Linked DNA regions of Homo sapiens: region 1 is linked to region 2. Evidence: fine-mapped expression QTL. A gene starts in region 2. The other region holds a variant in brackets. All regions are shown on one strand. Distances are between the middles of the regions.

What was found.
Region 1: its variant is fine-mapped to the expression of SKIC8 in sun-exposed skin (GTEx, PIP above 0.99). The same link has a PIP of 0.9 or more in neutrophils.

Annotation. Positions count from the first base shown.
Region 1 is chr15:78,273,976-78,285,948 of GRCh38, reverse strand. It overlaps DNAJA4 (DnaJ heat shock protein family (Hsp40) member A4), which reads right to left. Exons shown (of 7, transcript NM_001130182.2): 4 at 11,525-11,752; 5 at 10,221-10,451; 6 at 5,804-5,904; 7 at 3,758-5,704. The coding sequence ends at 5,489. It overlaps SKIC8 (SKI8 subunit of superkiller complex), which reads left to right. Exons shown (of 11, transcript NM_025234.3): 10 at 610-688; 11 at 2,428-2,714. The coding sequence ends at 2,517. LOC105370910 (a long non-coding RNA gene) reads left to right here and starts at 7,149. Exons shown (of 2, transcript XR_932500.3): 1 at 7,149-7,741; 2 at 10,952-11,973. RefSeq lists an enhancer at 9,028-9,322. The variant T/C (reference allele first, on the strand shown) is at 7,373.
Region 2 is chr15:78,294,513-78,306,485 of GRCh38, reverse strand. SKIC8 (SKI8 subunit of superkiller complex) reads left to right here and starts at 6,877. Exons shown (of 11, transcript NM_025234.3): 1 at 6,877-6,924; 2 at 10,761-10,811; 3 at 11,513-11,540. The coding sequence starts at 10,800. RefSeq lists enhancers at 6,480-6,569, 5,745-6,711, 6,810-7,159, 6,712-7,679.

The DNA.
Region 1 (11,973 bases), 21 kb after region 2:
CTTTTTTATTCAGTTAGCCTTTCTTTTCTGCAGTTCTTAAAATTTTTATTTAGTGATGTTAGTTGACCTTAGCTGGAACAAAAGTCAACAAGTAATCCTTTTAAACAGTAAAACTCTTAGTTTTTTCATTATAAATTGAGGCTTCTACCAAAGTGACTCTAAGGTAGACTTGTGTTCCAATGGTAACTTAAAATATGTAAATGTTTGTAAAATGTTGTTTATAGATCCCAGTGTTGGTCAGGCCTGGGATGGCCAAGACAGTTGGAAAGCAGGAGATGGACAACTTGAAGGCATTGCACAGTGCTTTAGAGGCCTCCTGCGAGCCTTGGTTTTGAAGCTTTAACAGGCCTCCCTCCCATCTGGAAATAGGTAGCTGTGTCTGAGACTCCTGGAGAACAATTAATATGAGGGCCAGGCAGATCACAATTTCAGGAAAATGGCTACCCTGTGAGGAGAGAAAGCCACCCAATGATGCTGATACCTGGCCATTTCCTGTACCGAGGCATGGGGTTGGGGGGTCTGAAGTTAGAAGAATGTAAGTCATCAAAGGATTTTTGGTCGAAGTCCTTCCAACTTCAAACCGATACTAATGTTCACTTTTTAAAATAGTTCGTCTGACAAAAGTGTAAAAGTTTGGGATGTTGGAACGAGGACTTGTGTTCACACCTTCTTTGATCACCAGGATCAGGTATGGCATTATTATTTCATCTTTAGATAGTCGGGGTTGTTTGACCATTGTACCAAAGAGATTTTCTTTTCCTGACCTTGTTGCTTGAGCTGTGGATACCAGTAGATGCCTGGGCCTGAGCTGCTCTATCTGCTCAGTCATCCATGTAGCCAGAGTTCCTGTGCAGAGTCTGGGGTGCAGAGGCTGGGATGTGCTGTCAGCCTAGCAACTCACGAGGCATATCCCCACATAGGCTGGAAAACATGGTGTTAGCCCCACAGCCTTTAAATGCCGTCTTTGGAAATTGCTGCAGCTGGTGTCTGGGGCCCTCTCCTGGGGGCTGCTGCGCCATGGCAGGCTCACCAAGGACCTTCCTCTTCAGGAGATTCCATTGCTTAAACACAATCATCGCTTGTCATTTTTGGGACTGTCCAAAGAAGAGATGTGATTTTTTTTTTTTTAATATAGTAGAAGCTGGAAATTCATACAAGTTTTTTGGCTTTAGTGTTATTGATAACTTTTCAGTCTTTAAAAGGAAACTGTTCTCACAAGCAACTTTATCTTTGCCAAGGTGAATATGTGAAATAGCAAAGGTGTTCTAGTGCAATACTGCTGAGTCTTTCATGTGTGCTCGTATCCCCTGGGAACCTGGTGAAAATGCAGATGCTGCTTCACTAGGTCTGGCAGAGGGCCTGGGATTCTGCATTTCTAACAGGCTTCCAGGTGAGGCCAAGGCTGCTGGTCCTAACCACACTGTAAGGTCTTGGGGAACTGAGCATAAAAAATAAAATGTCCATGGCAATATAATATTGGCTTTTAATATATTTTAAATATTTTTAGATGGTCCTATAGATTTCTCCTCTTTGAAATGGAACTTAAAGTTAACTAACATTGTTCATGCTTATTTTTCAACTTAAATTGTCCCAACAAAATTGAGGGGGTTCTATCTTGATATTCCACTTCTGGATTTAAGCATCTTACTCAGGGAGTAAGTCCTGGCTAGCTGTGTTTCCTTGTATGTATGGATCATTGCGGTGCTGTGTCAGAGGCTGGAGTGAAAGGCCATCATGCAGCCCAATCCCAACACTAAAATCAGAGTAGGGTGACAGGCTTACCACCCAGAATCACCTCCTAATAATCAGGAAGTTATTTATGATTAGAGAAACTCCAACCACATCAATTCTGTCTGGGAAGGAGGTGTGAATCAGTTAATTTAACACATAGCAAATAAAAATCTATGGTCCACAATATCATGTTGTCTAGCTCCTGGGGACAGGCAGGCTCCATAGGCCACTAATAACAGAGTGAGAATTACTGACTGTGGGGGGCGGACACAAGGGGTCAGCTGAGGAGCGCAGTTTGTGACTTTCCCTATAGGCAGTGACCTCGGGGTAGTTGTGGGGCTCTTTCTTCCTGGAAGCATAAATGTTGGTCTCTTATGGCTTCCGTCTTCCTGGCATTAGGTTACACTTCAGGATTCTGACTCTTTGAAAGGGTTGTAGATAGTCTTGATTAGTACTGTATTTAAAAATGATTTTTTTTTTTTTTTTTGGAGTATGGGAAGGGGCAGGAATTCTAATTAAATAGCAATAATGGAAGGTGCTCGGTTAAAGCCTCCATTCTCACTGATTTAGAAAGTACAAGAACATCCTCATCTCAGTTTTGGTAGATTCAGAATAACGAGAAAATAAGGATGTTCATTTCATAAATATTATAAAGAATAAAGGCATTTGTAGAACTATCTTTTTTTAAATTTACAGGTCTGGGGAGTAAAATACAATGGAAATGGTTCAAAAATTGTGTCTGTTGGAGATGACCAGGAAATTCACATCTATGATTGTCCAATTTAAACATCAAAGTCTCCAGGCTTATGCTGCAAAGAGAATGTACGGATTGATCATGACATTCCTTACCTTCTTAGGCTTGTTTAAAAGAAATATAGCATTTATTGTAGCAAAGACTTAAATTTTGTAGATACAATATGAATCTTTTCATGTTTTATTGGAAATGCTGTTCATACTTTAACATAAAGCTTTCTTAATGCAAACACTGGTGTCCTTGAACATGCTTCTTTTTTCAGTTACCCTATTACCAGTGAAACAGTGAGAGGGATTGGCATTAAGAGCAAATCTCTGCCTTAGCCATCAAGAGATCCAGGTATTTCTTTAACTTTCCAGCTTAGAAATACAGGCTGACTCTTCCAGGGAGTTGACTTATGCAGTGAGATACAGCAGCGAGCTCCCCGGAGCTGTGATAAAGAAGCTAATCTATTTTAGAATGGAGTCCTGAAGGAAAGAGTATATTTGACTGCATAGGAACATTATGTACTCCTGTCTATCTGGGCATCCTTCCACTTGATGTATTAAAGATGTCCCCTGCCAAGCCCTCCTTCCCCTTATTAATTTCAGAGAGGTCTCTAACTCGCTAGGTGGGTATCGGAAGGCAGGCTGCTATTCTTGCTGCCTTAACAATGCCTAGGCTGAAGCCTGTGCCTCATGCTGTAGAACTGTAGCCCTGCCTTAGTTATTTCAGAGTATCTGTACCTCAGAGTTTCCTCTTCATCAGCCCCCTTGAGACTCATGTTAATGAGAAAGATGTAAGTAGCTGAACACTTGGAAGCGTGTTTTTTATTGATCATTACTTCATATGCTTATGAGTCAGGTCATGTGCTTTTCCTCAAACCACTCACTGCCCTCAGAATAAAGCTCACACTCTTTATCATAGCCCCCCACTTCTCCCTCCTGCTTGCCTTGCTCACCCTCCTGTAACCACATCATCCTTGCCATTCCTCTGCCTGGAATGTTTTCCCTCCAGACCTTCGGACATCTGCTCCCCAGCTGCATCCAGGATTCTGCCCAGATGCCAGCTCCTGGTAGAGGCCTTCTTCCCATTCCCTTCTACTCATTCCCATTCCTCTTGTTCTTCATAGCAGTTACCACTTTTTGTTTGCATTCACCCCCACCCCCAAAATAAAGCTCCATGAGGGTGGAAACTTCATTCCATTATGTCAACCAATGAGAGGCAAGCTGGCAGGCACCTAACACTGTTTATGTGAGCTCTCAAAAAAAGGAAAAAGCAAAGCCACTTATCTCTCATACCAGCTCAATTTTAATTTTAAAGTGACAAATGTACAGGTGGAATAAAATTTTAAGCGACACCCTCCAAATTCCTTTTATATGACAAGAAGGAGCTGAATGTAATTTTACACCATTACCAACTAAACAGTAGTTCTTTAGCAATAATTAGGAAGTCACAGCACAAAAACGACACCCCAGAGTTGTGGTCCATTTATAAATAGATTTTCACCTAGGCTTCGTTGGAAGAAGTGATTTTATATCTATCCTCACCAATGGTCAAAGTGGGCACAGGTGGGCTGTTTCTATACTTTGAGCAAATTATGCCTCACTAGCTGGCAATGTTTTGCGGGAACCTGGTCCGTGCAGCTGGTTCACCTTACCTGCATGGTCTGATCTGCACTTTGACCCTCCTAAGGAAGATCCCTGGTCTGAGTGAAACTCTCAGGTGCCATGTAACCAAATAAGGGTAGGGTAGATCTGACAGGTGGCCTCTGCTTTAACCCAGCAGCTTACAAGTTTTTTGTGACTTGGGGAAAAGAAATAAGCAGTAATGGCTAAAGACTGAGGTAACCCTAAGTTCGAATTGTAGTCTACCTGTCATGAATAAAATAATGACTAATATCCCTCCAAACAAGCTATAATTTACAGTAGTAGTCCATACAAACTGTAATCCACAGTGGAACTCAGCGAAGTTCTTACCAAAACATCACTTGAGCAGGAAACCCTTTGTAATATGGCTGTGCAATGAGAGGAACGATCCTTTGGAAGGGAGCTCAATCTGGGAGAATGAGGTGGAAAACACTGGGGAGTTCTATGCCTTTGCAGACCCTCAAGTCACCCCGGATTACTGGTCAGAGAAGCTGGCTGTGCCATGGGCCAAACCAGCAGCATTCTCCCTTGGCTTCTGTTGCTGCACTGAGGCTGCCGGGGACACAGAAGGATTTAGTTTTCTTTACAAGTAAGCACTTTGGTGGGAAAGCATTGCAAAAGTTGTCAACAGAAAATCATTAAAACCCTGAAGAACAAGGTGTGAGGGTCACAGGCAAACAGTTATCAGCATATGATTCAAACACTGGTTTGTCCTCACCACAGAGCTTGGAAGGTTCAGAAAACTTCCAAGAGAGATGATCAGACACTCACGTTCCATCCACTGAAGGGCACAGAACAGTAGGAACTAAGTTGGCCCTGTTAAGCAGGCACATGCAGCCATGTCCGATCCACGGATGTGCTTTTATTCTTTAAGAGGATCATCTAGAATCCTCAGAAATGTTATCTTAGCAGCCCTGAGATCATGCCCTCAATAACTCTGCCAAGGGAAGAGGGGAGAAACCACAGACCTAGAGATGAGTCAGGATGCCCACTTTGTGCCTTGGGGTTTGCTAGGGGGGCTAAGCTGCTAACTGGGCTGTGCCTTATTGGTGACACTGAATTATGGCAAAGCCACTAGAAGCACAAAGTATTGGTGCAATCACTGACATCTCAAAAGTATATCCTGAAAATAGAAATGAACAGATTCCATATGCAGACTAGAGGTGATTTATACTTAAAACATTTAAATATAAATTAAGCTATAACTTAAGTTACAACCAAAAGAAAAGCCAAAAAGACACTCAGCAATTAAGAATGCTGAACACATACACAGGACATCCCAAACACAAGGCCATTAAAGCGATGTCATTTTCATTGTGCCAACTTTACATTCATCATGTGCTAGTCCGGTGGGGCCACGCTGCCCCGCACCACGTCATGCCGTCTGGCACTGCACTCCAGCCTGGGGCCCGTCTTCGTCCTCCTCGTAGGCCTCCCTGTGCTGACGCCAGTTCTGCTCATTGGGACAAAACTCCTTCAGCTCCACCTGATCCATGTCATCTGTAATCCTCACTTTCTGTCGAGGAGGGAGTAAAGCTTCCAGCTGAGGAAGCTTTTCCAGAGAAAGCCAGTGTTTTTCAGGAAAGATTACCTGTAAAGGGTGAGGTGGGAAAGAAAGGTGGCTGTTTTTTCCCCTTCCAATTAAGGCATTTAATAATATGTCCATGACAATGAAACATAGTGAACTTACTAAAAACTGTATGATCAGAATCCCTTTTTCCAGGGGTGCTTTGTAGATGGGCATTCCTTCATCGCGCACGCATCTCAGGTCCCCGTGCTTTATCACCTCACCTGCCAGAGAAAGGGTCAATTAGGAAGGAGGAAGGCAGAGGGGCCTGCAGAGGTCGTTCTCCCTCATGGGAGAGCCTGCGGCAGGCCCTAGTGCCCCGTGGCAGTGGGCAAAGGAAACGTGGCATCTGACTGGAAAGCTGGCCCCAATCCCAGGTATCCTTGTCAGGTACTGCCTGGGGAAGGGGCTCAGGCTGAGACTCTGGCCTGTGCTCTGGGCTCCAGCAGTGTGTCAAGAGGGCAGCATGGTGCAGCTGCCATCACAGGTAGGTTTAAAACAAGTGAACTAGAAGTCATGACACCCAAGTCTGCCTAAAATGGGGCCAACACCTGTCACCCTGCCTCTTTGTGGGGTGACAGGTATCCCTACCACGAGGGGGACAGGAGTGCTCCCCACAGACAGGAAGAAGCCTCAATAGAGTCCAACCAGTCCCCTGCCTGGCATAAAAACTGGCTCTTGGCCACCTGCAGGTGACACCCAGGTTCCTTGGTAGGGAGCTCACTAGGTGGCTTGGCCACTGGCAGACTCCTTCATGGTCACAATGCACTTCCATACATGCTGCTGAGCTGGAGTCACCCTCCCGGCTGGCACCCGCTGGGTCTTACAGCTACGTGACTTTGGAAGGCATCAGAGGAGTTCAGACCCCAAGAACTCTAAGGCGTTCTCCCAAGTCAGAAACTTCCCTCTAAGCATGGAAAAGGAAAGGGACAAAAGGGTTTCTGATAAAGCATGCTCTTCAGCTCAGCGATGAAAATGGACAAAGACAGAAAGAAATGTTCGGAAAAAATGGGGGAGACGGTGGAGGGGAATGGAAACACTAATTTCTTCAGCAGTCCACTTCCATACGGGACTATGTAGAAAGTGAGCTGTCTCTTCAAGAGGAAATCTTTAAAGAGGAGGTTTTAAAAATAAAGTAAGCCAATGACTATCCTTGAGATTCATTCGCAGGCAGGGCTGTGGTTCAGACATGGCCTTCAGAGCCTACTGACTGTGCAGGACAGCAACCCCTTAGCTAAACTGCTCCAGGCTGCTGGCTTTTTGTGTTCCTGTTTATTCTTTTTTTTTGAAATACAGTCATGGCCAGGCACGGTGGCTCACGCCTGTAATCCCAGCACTTTGGGAGGCCGAGGCGGGCGGATCACGAGGTCAGGAGTTCGAGACCAGGTTGATCAACATAGTGAAACCCCGTCTCTACTAAAAAAAAAAAAAAAAAAAAAAAATAGAAAAACTAGCCAGGAATGGTGGTGTGTGCCTGTAATCCCAGCTACTTGGGAGGCTGAGGCAGGAGAATGGCGTGAACCCGGGAAGCAGAGTGTACAGTGAGCCAAGATCACGCCATTGCACTCCAGCCTGGGCGACAGAGCGAGACTCCGTCTCAAAAAAAAAAGAAATACAGTCATGCACAGCATAGTGACCTTTCAGTCAACAACATTTATGAAGATGGTTGCAAAGATTACACCAAACTTTTAC[T/C]GCACCTTTCCTATGTTCAGATACTCACATACTCAGCATCGTACTACAACTGCCCACAGTATTCAGTACAGCAACCTGCTGTGCAGGTTTTAGCCCAGGAGCAACAGGCTATGCCACACAGCCTAGGGTGTAGCAGGCTATGCTATCTAGGTCTGTGTGAGTACATTCTATGGTGTTCACACCACAACGACATCGCCAAACAATGCATCTCTCAGAACATATCCCCTTCGTTAAGTTACATATGACTGGTTTTTCTGTCTCCCCATTCCTATCAGGTGTCGCTTCTTGCTGCTCTCAAGCCCTACTCCCCATGCTTCTGCTTCTAGCTTGCTGGGAGCTGGGAAACTGACCAAGCATGGAAAACTACAGGTAAGAGAAGAAGACCACGAGTTAGGCTCTCCCGGCAGGTAAATACCTGCCTGCAGGCAGGGCCATCACACCCTTGTGTGGCTCCAAAATCACTTTTTTAATTAATCCAATCCTCAGCAATGCTCATAACAGGCTAAAAGGCTCTGGGGAAGAAGGCATTTCAACAGCAGAAAAGAGGAAGAAGAGGGAGAAGAGAAAATGGAGAAACAAGAAATAAGCCAACACAAAAGAGGGGTGAAGAAAAGAGAGGGTGCAAAAGAGAACAAAGTAAAAACAAAAACAAAACAAAAAGGACAAACAAATCCCCAAAGAACTCTCCAACGGCAGGTTTCCTGGATGCTCCACCCTTCCTTATAATAAAGAAGGAAATGGATTTCTTGGGATTTGCCACTTCCTTCCCTCTGGGGCTCTTTCTCCACCACCCTCACTCCATTTGGCTCCCGGCTCCCTAGGCTGGGGTCAGCTGAGACAGCAAGGAACGCTGGCTCTTGGTGGGGCCCAGGACCTCAAATAGTCCACCCCTGGACAGGACAGGCTTTCCCAAAGAAGTTACACACAGATGCTTCCCAGCCCCGGCTCAGGAGGGCTAGGATCTGGGCTGTGACCACGTAAGGGCATCTTGGACACAATGCCAGGGTGTTGAGCTCACAACCAGTGGTCTGGAGCTTCGTGTAAACTGTGATCCTCAAACTCCTCCTTGAGGGAGGAAATGGGTGCCTTGGGAGGTCTATGGAAGCCTAAGGGAAGGTGTTTTATTTTAAATTTTCATGCAAATTTTGCATTATACTGCAGTGCTTCCCCCAATCCTGGATTAAGTATATGTATAAAAACACACACAAGTCTGGGCAACATGGCGAAACCCCGTCTCTACAAAAAGTACAAACATTAGATGGGCGTGGTGGCATGTGGCTGTCCCAGCTACTCGGGAGGCTGAGGTGGAGGTTACAGCGAGCTGAGATCACGCCACTGCACTCCAGCCTGGGCGACAGAGCAAGACCCCTGTCTCAAAAAATAAATGAACAAATTTTAAAAATAAATAAAAACAGACACAGATCAAATGACAAACCAAATGGGGTAAAATGTTAACATCAGACAAATCATATATGGATGGGCCTCGGACTATTTTTATATTTACAACTTCTTGTAAGCTTGAAATTGTTTCCAAATAAGTTTATTTTAAAACTCCACAAACCGATCAAGGCTTGGATATATAATTCTGCTTCCTACTATCCCCAGGAAAGGAGGAACCTGAAAGAATCCAAGAGAGGAAAGAGAAAAAGAGCACAAGGCTGGGAAGAGAAAAGCAGACAAGGAGGGGAAGGGGGAGAGGGACACGGAGGGAACAGAAGTCCAGGCCTCAGTCACCCCACCAGACTTGAGTCTTATCTCCAGCTGCCACTGCCCTGGGGGCAGGCTTATTGGTGGTTACCTCCCTGCCTGCCCTGAACCTACCCCTTTTGCACCAAACCTCAAATGGCCATAGAAAAAGGTAATCCCAGCCCCACGGCCAGTGAGGGGACTACAGCAACACTGCAAATGGCTGGTGCTGGGGCCCAGGCTGCTTCGGTGGCGTAGCCGCCACCACACCCATCCAGACATTCTTTGCTATGCACAGCTGACCTTAGTGCTATTCAGAAGCAGCTTCAAGTCAAGGTCCCTGGCCTGGCCTCTCTCCCTTCTCAGCCCCTTCTAGGCAGGTGCTCTGGTGCCCACACAAACCCTCAACTACAGTGAACACACCAACCCTCCTGGGAGATGAGTGCCCTGGTGTCTACAGGGGGGTTGGGGGCTGAGCTCAGGCCTCAGGAACCCTTTCGGCCTAGAGGCATCTCCCTCTGGCTCCCATGGGTGTGTGCAGACCAGCAATTCCTGTGGAAACCTCCAAGGATAAACTGATAGGCAAAGTCTTTCTTACAGGAAAATTCTATTTTAAAATGTAACTCATGTAATGAACAACAGAGGCTACAGGAACATGTGGATGAATCAGCACAAATCACCACTTGATAGAAAAACACCACCTATTAAGCTGTTTTCTTATACAAAAATAAATTTTTAAAAACTTAAGTTTAATTGCCAGAATTCATCTAAAATTCAGAGCCCCAAGATTCTTATTTGAGACTTTCCCCCCAACTGAATATTTTTTCTAGGAGAATATACAAGAACTTTATAAATTATCCAGAGTTATTAGGGACAGTTTTAAATTTAGAGAAAATCACATCATACTAATTTGTGTAACAGAATTTGACCTTAAATGTGAAATCAGGGGAACTATTCCCAACACAAAGAAATAAATACTCAAGGCGACAGATGCCCTAAACACGTGGCTTGATCATTACCCATTTTATGCAAGGGACAAAGTATCACATGCACCCCATCAATATGTAAAATATTATGTAGCAATAAAAAAATCAGGCTAACTTGCCAGAATTATTATGCCAAACATACAGAACATCAATGGAAACACACTTTGAAACATTACCTGCTTTGGATGTAATAACAAGAATTCGATTGTCCAATGTTTTTATCGTCTTCTTGAAGCCACAAAGAGCTTCAGAAAGCTGAATTTTCATTTTCATGATCAAGTCATGGCCTCGTCTCTGAAAGACACTATGATCCTTCTGATCAAGCACAATTATGACATCACCAGGCTCCAGCTCAGGCTCCTGATCTCCTTCTCCATGAAATAGTATCTTTTGCCCATCTTTCATACCTATGAAACATCATCCCTTTCTGATTAGCCATTTCTCATACAAACCATGCTTCCTTAAAGCTTTTGAAGAAGGAACAGAGTCCTTCAGGGATTCTTTATTCATCAAGTCTCCCAACCTCATGCAGGCACAAGGCAGGGAGGGGTGGCTAGGATGGCCAATGACAGAAGAGGTCCCGCTTCCCTTGGCATAATGTGGGGCCAAGCCCAGCATGCACAGGGAGTGGGGGAATGCGGCTCTACATCCCAGGTTTACACAGCACTCCCTGCCCAGGGCCTGTGATGCCACACCACCAGCATAGGGTCACCGCCCACTTCCCGGGGCACAGGGTGCATGACTTGGGACTGATAGGGACAGGTCAGCCAGCCCTGTCCTTTTCTAATAAGTCAGCTTGCACACTCAAGGCACAGGGTTTAGGCATGTTTAAACAGTAAGTCCTTTAATAACACCTGTGTCGGTTTGGCTGTTGATTCTTTTACTTTTGGTCTCATCTCTGATCTAGGATATATTTACTGGATTGGAAAGCCACAGAATCATCGGAATACTTGGAGGACAGCTAAAATGGAAAAAGGCCTTAAAATGATGGCATCAGGCAAAATGAATAGCAGGAGAAGGTGCTGTATTTGGGGGAATCTGATGCAGCACATGGGGAAATGTGGAGAAAGGGAACATGCAGCCACAAACACTTACACAAGCCCTTATGGCCAATGAGCATCAGAAGCGACCAGGAAGACACTCCGAAAGATTCTAGAGGAATGGCTTGAGAATGTCAGGAGATGGCAACTAACCCAAACCAAGGCCAGGTAAGACTTTCAGAGCGTTAGAAAACCTCATAAAGAGGCTGTCTGTGATCTCAAGGAAGTAAACCTCAGCAAGAACACTTTGGCAGGTGACATGGAATGGAAATAAGGCCAGGAAGGGTGAAGAGAAGACTGGGAAACAAGAGGAATTCATGGCACACCCAATACATGTTGTGATACAGCTCACTTCCCTGACATCTAGTCTGTGTATCTCACGATTAGCACCCAGACAGCATTTCCAGCCCGTGTGGAGCACCAGCTCTGCGCAGCCTCACCTTTTTCAACATGTACCTCGATAATCTTCTTCTCACGGATCACCTTGGCCCCGCTGCAGCTCTCGCAGCGGTCCTTGGGGTTGATGCGCTCACCCTGGCCCTTGCACTCGATGCACACGGTCTGGATCTGCTGTACCATGCCCGGCCCGATCTGCTGGATGTGGATCTGCATCCCCCGCCCCTTGCACAGCGGGCACTTCTCCACCGATCCCTTCTTCCCACCAACACCTGCAGGGTCAGGGGAGGCAGGAATGAGGGCCATGCTCTTCCCTTACCAGTGTCCCTGCTGGGCGCCATGGCAGAAGGGTAGGGAACCCTCACATTGGACAATGGGCTTAGAATTCTATTTACAATAATAAAAAACAATGCAGAAGAGTCTGGAGGAGTCCAGCCAAGCAGACAACATCCAGATGTTAACATCTGACCTCAAACGTTTGTGATTTTGGCTG
Region 2 (11,973 bases):
TATAGAGGGAGAGAGGTATGAGATAGATCTGTGAGGTTCTTCTTCATTCAGAAATGCTTGGACCTGTGACTGAGTGGAGAGGAGAAGTATAGGGGTAAGTCCTGGGACACTGTGGCCTAGTATCATTCTTCCTGCTTGAGCCTCTCTGTGGGTCTGCTCTATGCAGGGCTAGTTGGAAAGGCAGTGAATGACTCAGGGAACAATTATGTCCCTGTGGGGCTGCAGCCTTAGAGGGGGCCTCCCAACCTTGGCCTCTTTATGAATTGTAGAGCTTTTCAGGGCAGCCCTTACATCTTGGAGCTACTTCATCATTAGCCTGGATGTTTACCTATCTTATTCTAAAATCTTTTCATTTCCTCCTGACCTGGAAGACCAGAACTCTAATTACAGATGTTTAAATGTCACATACAATGGCAAGTCTCTCCAGATTTGCTTTACAATGGGCATTCCGTGGATCTGTGAACTTTGATAGGAAAATAATTATATCTTTATTTCCCTTAAACTGTAACTGGAATTTAATATCTTCTTTAATTATAAATGTATGCAATAAATCTAGGAGTATTAGTAGTACCTGTGACTTTGTCACCAATACAAATCACAAATATTTTCGTATCACATTGCAGCTGTTGCAAGTAATTCTAAATATTGTTTATGCTCACTGCTACTTTAAAATTACAGAACAGGCTGGGAGCCATGGCTCATGCCTGTAATCCCAGTACTTTGGGAGGCTGAAGTGGGCAGATCACCTGAGCCCAGGAGTTTGAGACTAGCCTGGGCAACATGGCAAAACCTCTTCTCTACCAAAAAAAAAAAAATTACAAAAATTAGCCGGGCATGGTGGCACATGCCTGTAGTCCCAGCTACTTGGGAGGCTGAAGCGGGAGGATCGCTTAAGCCTGGAAGATTGAGGCTGCAGTGAGCAGTGATTGCGCCACTGCACTCCAGCCTGGGTGACAGAGCGAGACCCTGTCTCAAAAATAAAATAACAGAAGATATTAGACATGCTGCATTAATAAAGCACATATACTACTGTTTCACAAATATTTTGATAACTACTTTGATATAATTGGTTTCCTTTGTAATCCTATGTGGCTTGTTCTTATGTACTTGAAAACATTATTCTGCCCCACCTGGCTGTTCTGTGATCTCATGACCTTTGAGTGGGAACTCAGACTCAGGAGGGCTGCTGCCAGCACTGGCCCAAATGACTTCGGTGGTTTTTACAGCACGCTGGAGAGAATCTGAGAGGATTCCCTGGCAGGAATTTGAGGATTATCTGGGTGATGCATCAGTGATTACAATTTTGTTTTTACCAGTTTTGCTAAGCAGCAGCAATAGCAGAGGTGATTAAGAAAAATGAAAGAAAAAAATGCAAAAAGAGAACAGGCAGAGACGGTGGTAGCTGCTTTCTTGATGTTGATACTGAGGGCCAAGCTTTCCACCACCCCCTTGTAGTTGCAGAAAGCCTCAGATGTAATGGTAGTGTTACGGGATCTTTGGACGGGTGTGGGAGGTATTGATTTTCTTCCTGGGAGCGCCTTTGCCTGAGTTCTTGTCCTGTGTCCAGGAATAATGAGGTACTCGAAGAACTTACTGAGTGTTAAGCAGCTCAGAGAAGACCCGCAGTGGGTAGCTCCTCTGAGCAAGTCATCCCATGGAGTGTTCAGCTCTCAGCAGACAGGAGGCCTGGAGAGGGTAGCTCCCCCTCTGCCCACTGGTTATCCTGCCACCTGCTGCTCTCAGCAGAAAGAAGACCCAACCCTGGAGAGGGGAGCTGCTCTCAGCAAAAAGAAGACCTCACCCTGTAGAGGGGGGCTGCTCTCAGCAGAGAGAAGACCCAACCCTGGAGAGGGGGACTGCTCTAGGGGATCCTGGCGGGGGGTGCTCCTGGAGAAGGAGGCTGTTCTGGGGGATCCTCTCCTCAGGTCATTTGGAAGTCTCTACAGGAGGAGGGGGGCCTCCTCTCCGCAGGTCCTTTGAAAGGCTCTGCAGGTCTCTGCAGCTCTGGCAGAGAGGGTAGCTCCTTTCTACAGCTACTCTTCCCGCTGTCTCTCCATCCTCTCCTGCAGTTTGGCTGAGCCCAGGGCTTTTATGGACCTCAGAAGGGAGGAAGTGTGTGCTGACTGGCCCATGGGCGGCCATGGGTGAGCCTGGAGGAGGCACCACAAGCTCCCACTCAGGTCTGTGGGACTGGCAGCCTGGTCCCCAGTCTTCAGTCCCTCCCTGACCTGAAGGTGGGGCCTTACTGGAGACCTACCCCCTTCTGCCCAGGAATCGATCTGCCTCCTACTGTCATTCATGGCCCCTGGGGCTTGGCCCCAAGCCCTGCTCCATGATCAGAGCAGGGGCGGCAGCAGAGAGAGGCCAGGCAGCAGGAACAGACACCCCCTAGCGACGGGGTGCGGTGGGGTCCTTTCTGGGGTCCACGAGGGTGCAGGCTGCAGAGACCCTCTGGGTCCTGCACCTAGGAGGGCAGATCTTGCCTGCTCCCAGCCCCCTCCAAGAGCACCGGGAGGCTCGGATCCACAGCCGCTGTTTGGGCAGTTGTAGCCCCGCCCAGGAGGGTGGCGACCCTGCCTGCTCCGTAAAGCAGGAGGCCTGGATCTGCAACTGCTGTTTGGGCGGCTGCAGCAGCACCTGGGGAGCTCTCCCCAACTCAGAAGGGGGAGGCATCCACCAGCATGCAGCCCCAGCTGTGCCTCCCTGCCGCAGCCCGGTGATGGCAGCAGCTACTGCAACAATAGTGTAAACAGTGGCCGGGCGCGGTGGCTCACGCCTGTAATCCCAGCACTTCGGGAGGCCAAGGCAGGTGGATCACGAGGTCAGGAGATCGAGACCATCCTGGCTAACACAGTGAAACCCCGTCTCTACTAAAAAAAACACAAAAGAAAATTAGCCGGGCGTGGTCGCGGGGGCCTGCAGTCCCAGCTACTCAGGAGGCTGAGGCAGGAGAATGGCGTGAACCCAGGAGGCGGAGCTTGCAGTGTGCCGGGATCGCGTCACTGCACTCCAGCCTGGGCGACAGAGCGAGACTCTGTCTCAAAAAAAAAAAAAAAAAAAGGGTAAACATTTTGAACTGTATGCATTATTATATCAAGGAGTAGCATATCTTGCATGAATGCTCTCTTTTGTGTCTAGGTATTCTAAACACTCTTAATGTGAAAATGAAGTGCATGTAGCAAAAACCTTTTATTATAAGAAACTTTACAACACTTGTGAAAAAAATTAAATTTGGTTTGTGCACAGTGTAACCTTTCTCCAGATATTGTCCAAAATTACACACGCACAAACCGTTCACCCTAATTAGGCGTTGGCCTCAACCTAAACATCTGGGACTGTTATCTATTAAACTGCTGCCAGAATCTTACATCCAGTTACCTCCACTTTCTAGAACATATTCTCTAATAATGCCATAGAAACCAATTTCTACTCCATACTGATGTTTTTTTGCAACAGCAATTAAAATTTTTTCTTCCAAAAAACCCCATTGTTCTGGGACAGGATTCATTGGTTTCATCAGATGCCTGAGACGTCCACAGTGTAAAAAAGGCCAATTATTCTAGCTTTATAGTCCCAATGCTAAGGTCATGCCAATGATCCCATATGTCTGGCCCTCTGGGGGAATGTGGTGAAAGTAGGTACTTAATACATCCTTTTTGAATGAATGGTTTGGAGTTCTTGTCATAATTATAGAATTATAAAGCTGGAAAGTCTTTAGAAAGTCTTTATTACAATGATTTTCAAAGTGTTTGGCCATGACTCATAGCAAGAAATGGATTTTCACTTGTGACCCAGTAACCGCATGGGTGAAACAGTTTTTATAAAACATGATGTAACTTTACTATGTATGATGCACTCTTATATCTTCTATTCTACTTCTTTCTTAATGTATTCCATTTCTCTTTTTTGAGATGATTAATTGAATTTTTATCCAAAACAACTGGCTTCAATTGAAAATTATTAGTAGCAGATTTGGGAGCAAGTAAACAGAAATGGAAAGCCTTAGTATTTGGCTTAATTATTCTAAAAGCACACTGATCACATTTATGCTTTTTTAATTTTAAATTTTAATTAAATTTTAAGTTAAAAGGCATAAATGTGATCAGTGTGCTTTTAGAATAATTTGAAGGTGGGGTATTTAAAGTTAATGTGTAGAAAAGAAAAAAAACCTTACATAACCCCAGATCACACAAATTAAAATTCACTTAGTCATACAGTTGTGAGCACTTTTGACAGCCAAAATTTCACCCTTCTTAAAGTAGGAGTCTTTCAAAAATACTTCTTCATATTCAAAAGCTAAAAGTTAGAGTGAAGATGGCCCAATTATCTCGGTGTGGGAGAGGTTACATAATAATCTATTTCCAAAACCCACAAAAACCCGTAAATGTCACCAACAAAAACAAAGCAGCAGATTGGCCAAAACTAAGGCAACTGGTTATACAGGAAGGCAGCAGGTCACTCATTTAACTGCTAAAAGCCATTGCTTTGTAGTACTAATGTTAATTCCTTTCCACACTTCAGGAACCCACATCCCAGCCATTGCAGGGTCAGTTTCTGTGTATTTAGCTCTGTGGAATGTGCCCGAACACCAGTCAGCACTTAAGTCAATCTAAGTTTGAAAATCAGCTCACTGGCTTCATGATATAATTTGTACATTCTTCCTTAGCTTCAGGGGCACATGCCTGACCCTGGTCCAATAGATCCAGAATGGTTACAAGGATATCTTGACTTATAAGAGATGCCACATAAGAATTTTGACAATTCAGTCTTGAAGTCTGCTCACTTTGACCCAAACTTTTTAAGCCAGTGACATGCAGAGGGTCCACTGGGGCTGGATGAAATTTCTATGGACAGAGATGTCACAGAGCTGGGAAGGAGAGAAATAGCTCTCCAGTCAATGTGACTGAGAAAAATTAGTCATATCACTCTGAAACATGTGAACTTGAGGGTTAAGGATGCTGGCATGCAGGGAAGTCATGTGTGCAGCAGAAGAGCTGCAGGATGTCTTCTCTTTTGTGTTAATGTGAGATTACTGAGGACAAGAGAATAGGTCCTGGGAGATGTGGGTGTATTTGCCAATTTCTCACCACACATAGCCTCCTCAAAAAGCCCCCAAAGATGGCCAGGTGCAGTGGCTCATGCCTGTAATCCCAGCAACTTGGGAGGCAGAGGTGGGTGGAGCACCTGAGGTCAGGAGTTTGAGACCAGCCTGGCCAACATGGTGAAACCCCGTCTCTACTAAAAAAAAAAATACAAAAAAAAATTAGCCGGGTGTGGTGGTGGGTGCCTGTAGTCCCAGCTACTGGGGAGGCTGAGGCAGGAGAATCACTTGAACCCAGGAGGCAGAAGTTGTAGTGAGCCGAGATTGCGCCACTGCACTCCAGCCTGGGTGACACAGCAAGACTCAGTCTCAAAAGAAAAAAAAGCCCCCAAAGATGAACTTCACCTAGTTGTAAGTGGTCTAATAGTCCTCCGTCTCTCTCTCTATATATATATTTGAACTTCAAAACTAGTTTTTTCGAAAAATATTTTTTAGAGCCAGGGTCTCACTCTGTCACCCAGGCTACAGTGCAGTGGCCCAATCATAGCTCACTGCAGCCTCAAACTCCTGGGCTCAAGTGATCCTCACTTCTGCCTCCTGAGCAGCTGGGTCTACACGTGCACACCACTGCGTCTGTAACTTTAAAATTTTTTGTAGAGATTGGGTCTCGCCATGTTGCCCATACTGGTCTTGAAATCACGGCCAGAAGCAATCCTCCCCCCTTGGCCTCCCAAAGTGCTGGGATTACAGGAGTGAGCCACCACATCTGAGCCACAGGGCGGCCTCCATAATGGGGCATGAGCCTCTTCCCATCTTTTTTTGTTGTTGTTATTCGAGACAGTCTCACTCTGTTGCCCAGGCTGGAGTGCAGTGGTGTGATCTGTGCTCACTGCAACTTCTGCCTCCAGGGTTCAAGCGATTCTCCTGCCTCAGCCTCCCAAGTAGCTGGGATTACGGGCACATGCCACCACACCCGGCTAATTTTGTTTTTGTTTCTGTTTTTTTTTTTTTTACTTGAGACGGGGTTTCACCATATTGGCCAGGTTGATTTCAAAACTCCTAACCTCAAGTGATCCACCCACTCCGACTCCCAAAATGCTGGGATTACAGGCATGAGCCACCACACCCAGCCCCATCTCTTTTTTTTTTTTTGAGACGGGGTCTAGTTCTGTTCCCCAGGCTGGAGTGCAGTGGCGTCATCACGGCTCAATGTAGCCTCAACCTCCAGGGCTTAAGCGATCCTCCTGCCTCAGCCTCCCAAGTAACTGGAACTACAGGCATGTGCTAATTGTTTTTATTTTTAGTAGACACGAGGTCTCTCGCTATGTTGCCCAGGCTGGTCTGGAAACCCAGAGCTCAAGCAAGCCTCTCACCTCGGCTCCCAAAGTCCTGGGATTACAGACGTGAGCTACTCTGCCTGGCCCTCAAAAAAAAAAAAAAAAAAAGTCAGTTGACAACCTATTAAACTGATATCTGTCACGTTAATGGGTCATGACTAGCAGTTTGAAAGACAAAGCTCGATTTCACTGAATTTATTTCAGCAACAGAAGTTATTAGCTTTAGTCCAATCTCAAAAGTACAAAATGAAATTGCAACACAAACCTCTAAACCTGCAGTTGCCGGAAGCTAAACGTCTGCGCTTCCGGAAGCAAATTTCCAACTACCACTCCTCTGGAAGCAGGACCTGGCTTCCTCCCTCCTCTCTCCGCCCACCCTCGTCGGCGTCTGCCCCGCGCCCGCCATAGCGACGGCAACGGGCGCTGCGGAGTGCTCCGAGCCGTGAGGGCGGGGCCGGCGCGATGCCCCGCCCCTTCGATAGCTCATCTTTGCGCGTCGCAGTCGCGCGGAGCCCGGCTTCCGACGTGCAGCCTGGCAGTGCAGTGGTGAGTTGGAGCGCAGGGCCGTTGGGGATTGGGGTCATTAGGGCCGTTGACAGTCCAGGCCAGAGGGCGAGTGAGCGAGGTTGGGCCCGAGGCTGCCTGTAAGCAGGTCCGTTCAGGGATGCTCCAGGCCCTGGGGCCTGAGGGTGGCTTCCATGGCTCCATTTGCCCTGGCTGTTCCTCGGTGTACGGGGCCTGAGGGGAGTGGGGGAGGCCCGTGGGTGGCCTCCTTTTGCGTCCTGAGAATGTTCTGGGCAGTATCGAGATTAGGGCTGGTTTCTCTGCGGAGGAGATCATTTATCCGTAGCTGGGAGGGCTGTATTAACCGAAGTTTTCCAGTAGTGGGCCACGCTGTCTTAGGTAGCGTGCTGGACAGATACAGACATCACTGGACGGGTACAGACAGAGGCTGGGTTCGCTTTACGCCAAGTACCGTGCAATACTGTGGGCTGTTGACTTGCCTGAGTAGTTTCATAGAGGCATCTGTAGTGTTCCTTGGAAACACTGAGTCAGTGATGAATTCTGCCTAGGAAATTTAGGGAAAAGTTTCCCAAAGAGAGAAGATGGCAAGAGAGGGCTAAGGTCTAAAGTCTCTTAGCTCTGACCTTCATAAGACCCTGAAGTAAGAGGTAGTGTATCTTGGTAGCCTATACTATAGCTTGTATCCACCTTTTAGTGTCCCTTGGGGAAGCTTCCTTAACCGCTTCTAAGCCTCCCTTTTCTTACTAGAAAAGTGGAACTGATAATAAAAAAATAGTAGTTCCCCCCTTATCTGCGGGGTGTACGTTCCAGTGGATGTCTGAAATCTTGGATAGTGAAGGACCCTGACTGACTTACCGTGGTTTGACTTACAATTTTTCAACTTTACATAGGTTTATTGGGAAGTAACCCCATTGTAAGTTGAGGAGCATCTATACTGTGTTTTTTCTCATACAGATTACACATACATACCTGTGATTACTTAGTTTAATTCGTAAATTAGGCACAATAAGAGAATAACAACAATAATAATAAAATAGAATTATAACAGTGTAATAAAATGTATGTGAATGTGGTCTCTCTCAAAATATCTTACTGCACTCTACTCACCTATTTTTGGACTACGGTTGACCTCTGGAACTGTGGAAATCAAAACCTCAGCTAAAGAACTACTGTACCTAGTAAGCGGGGTTATGAGGTTTCAGTGAGCTAAATCTTTGTGTATTACTTAAAATAGGACCGGATTCATTGTACATCCTCAAATGTGCACTCATTGATAGAATCACACCCTTGTCTTTTGGAGCCCGGGTTTTTGGAAGCTGGCTTACCGCAAGCCTTCCTCCTTTTTTTGTTTCTATCCATTGCCAAATGTGAGGCCCAGAATGACAGGGAAGAGGACAAGCCTGTGCTTCAGCAGGCAGAAGGCTGTGCTGAAGCAGAGGTTGAATACCATTCCCATTAGCCAAACTGGCTTGAGCACTTTCCTGTCTTTCCTACCCTGGGCAGAAAGAACCCTGTTCATGGGTCACAAATGAATAAAACACTACCAACCTGTCTGTAATCCCAGCACTTTGGAAGGCCAAGACAAGAGGATCGTTTGAGGCCAGGAGTTTGATACCAGCCTGGGCAACATAATGAGAACTTGTCTTTACAAAACCAAAACAAAACACTACCAATTTGAGATCTTCATAGGCAAGGATTAGTTATAAATTGTTTGTTTGTTTGATTTCCTGTTATTGGAAAACCTTCGGCAGCTTTTTAGGCTGGCAGATTTAAAGAAAGTAACCTGAACCTGGATGCCTTAACTGTGTGGTCCCTTAAACTGCCAATGGGTAGAATTGCGAGGGCCGTGAACTTGGCTGAGAGGAAAAATTGCATCTTTATGTTTCCTAACCTCCAACTGAAATTTAGCATTTTCTTCCACTGTGAATGTAGGCAACAAATCACATTATTAGCAGTGTGACTTTGTTATGAATATAAATTATAGATATTTTCATATCATGATATTGTGTAAGCTCATTGCAACTTCGAAATTATGGTAGTTATTAAATTTGCTTCTAGATCACATATATAATGTGTCAGTAAAGAAGCACATATGTTTTTGTATTTTGATAAAATTTTAGCATACAGTCTATCCTCATTATTTGTGGATTCTGTATTTATGAATTCACCTACTTACTAAAATTTGTCTGTAGCCCTCAAATTAATACTTACAATGCTTTTGTGGTCTTTGGAAGACATGACATTTTTTCACGTGAAAAATTTTAGTTGCCTGATGCACATGTTCTCAACTGAAGTCAAACAAGGTGACACTGCCTTCTTGTCAACTCTCATATTGTAAGCAAATGTCATTTTTGCAGTCTTTGGTGCTACATTTTTCTCATCTTTGTGCTTTTTGTCGGTGATTCCACTGTTTGAGATAGCCCCCAAGCATAGTGCTGAGGTGCTTCTAAATGCAAGAAGATTGTGATTTGTCTTATGGAGAAAATATGTGTGTTAGATAAGCTTTGTTTAGGCATGAGTTCAGTATTAATGAATTACTAATGTATATTCAGTAAGTGCCTTTAAACATAAACACACATAAAACATGATTATGTATTGATTGGTTGACAAGAATGTGCCCAGAGGCTTTCAGGAACCTGTTTCCCCAAGGAACAGTGGTTCTGTGTTGGATAATTTAGTGTCTGTAGCGACTTCATAGAACATAATTGTTGTGAATAATGAGAACCTACTGTAATTGGTTTCATTTCTAAACCTGTGTATTTTCTGTAAAGACATCCTGAGCCTGAGTCTGGTGGCTCATACCTGTAATCCCAGCACTTTGGGAGGCCAAGACAGGAGGATTGCTTGAGCCCAGGAGTTCAAGACCAGCCTAGGCAACATAGGGAGACCCCATCTCTACAAAAAATTAAAATATCCAGACATGTTGGCACGCACCTGTAGTCCCAGCCACTCGGGCTGAGGTGGGAGCAAGACTTGGCCTGGGAGGTTGAAGCTGCATTGACCATGATTGTGCCACTGCACTCCAGTCTGGGTGATGGAGCAAGACCCTATCTCGAAAAAAAAAAGTCCGCCAAAGGGGGTCTTTGGCACACACAAAGAAATAAGAACCATTAGCCCTTAATGTAGCCTGAGAAATTAGATCTATCCTTTTTTTTTTATTTTTTATTTTTATTTTTTAAGATGGAGTCTCGCTCTGTCACCCAGGCTGGAGTTCAGTGGCACAATTTCAGCTCACTGCAACCTCCGCTGCCTAGGTTCAAGTGATTCTCCTGCCTCAGCCTCCTGAGTAGCTGGGATTACAGGTGTGCGCCACTACACCCAGCTAATTTTTGTATTTTTATTAGAGACGTGGTTTCACCATGTCAGCCAGGATGTTCTCAATCTCTTGACACGTGTCTCCCTCCAGCTTCTGCCCTTATTTACCTGCCTGTTGGCTCTTAAAGGCATTTTTGGTTGAGACTTTTGCATGTAAAATAAGAACTTTGCCATCTTTGGATTCCCCCATGTTTGTTTGTTTGTTTTTAATAAATAATATTTAATATTAAAAGGAGCTGTGGTTTTTTTCTCTCTAAAGAGCAGGAAAGGACAGAGACTGGTCGCTCTCTGCAGTCACACTTGAGGTGAAGAAACCATGGGATAGAATTAGCTGTTAGTTGAGTCCCTAGGTTCAGAGGAAGAAAGAAGACCATACCACCTGGTAGGGAGTGCGAAGGAGGTTCCAGGGACTGATCCATAGAAGGGTGTCAGAACAACTTCATAATAAAGAGTTGCCTTATTTTCTTGGTCAAGGGGAACTTCCTGTGTGCCTTCTATCCTGATGACACCCCCTCACTGAAATCCTGGTGTTGTTTCCACAGAGCTGTCTGGCCTTTTGTCCTTGATCCTTGGTTAAGGAAATGACCAACCAGGTAAGACCTGTGTTGAAGGGAAAAACATCAATTGGTCTCTTTGCCAAGTTCAAGTCCAGTAGGTTTTCTGGATGTGTAGTCAAGAAACTAGCATCTCATTCTTGCCTGGCTCCTAAAGAGCTGGGTGACCCTGGGTACCTAGTCACCACAGTGTTAGGTGGGACTAGTGAAATGCAAATACTGAGAGGAGGATTGGTTCATCCAAGTCTTTACCACAATTTAGTGAGTAATAGAAGAAGCTTAAAAGATGTTGTACAAAAAAAAAAAAAAAAAGATCAGAATAGGAGATAGAACAGGAGAAACATATCTTTGTAATAAGATTAGGGACAAAGTTAATAGACGGTTAGGCAGGCTGTGTGTTCTTATTGCAGCTGCAAAATTTAAGCTACAAACTGGACTTTGAGCTTCCTTGGTGATCAGAACAGAAAAAGAAAACATAATTTATTGGTCTCTTGTTGAGTGAGTTTGGGTAGTAGGAAGGAGGGGAGAATGTCAGTTTCTTTAAGAATTTTTTTCTGATATGACTGTACAAATCTTGCATGAATGGGAATCAAGGAGCTTGCGGGATGGCCAGGTTGACAGCAGAGGAAGTAACTAACACTGTGGTGACTCTGTCTACTCGGGGAGGAGTGCTTTCTGGAGGCAATGTGAGACATCTGAAATCTGACCATGGGTTTAATGTGGCTTCTGTTCTTTTTTAGTACGGTATTCTCTTCAAACAAGAGCAAGGTAAGTAGCCTGCCTGTTTAAGCAATTCATCTGTGAAAAAAACTGTGTTGTCCCTGGTTTAAGACTTTTGTCATGCTGACCAGACATGCAGTTTTCAAGTATACTCACTTTGCAGAAGAATTGGCAGCTGAAAACAAATACTCTTAAAAAACAGACAACAACAACAACAACAACAAAAACCTGAACAACCAGCTAAAAAAAAAAAGCAGTCATCATGATAGGTTGGGGAATTCTAGGCTGAGGAAAATTTTTCCACCTGAGGAAGACATGATGGAGCTTCCCAGCTGCTGAGGTGGAAGAAGGAAATGCTTTGAGGCTCAAAACTCTGTTAATGCCGGCTCATCTGGGGAGGTGAACGTGAGCCTTTTTCTGAACTCAGAACTTGCTTTGGCCCTTAATGAAAGTGAAGCCTATAATAGTGAAATGAGTTTCT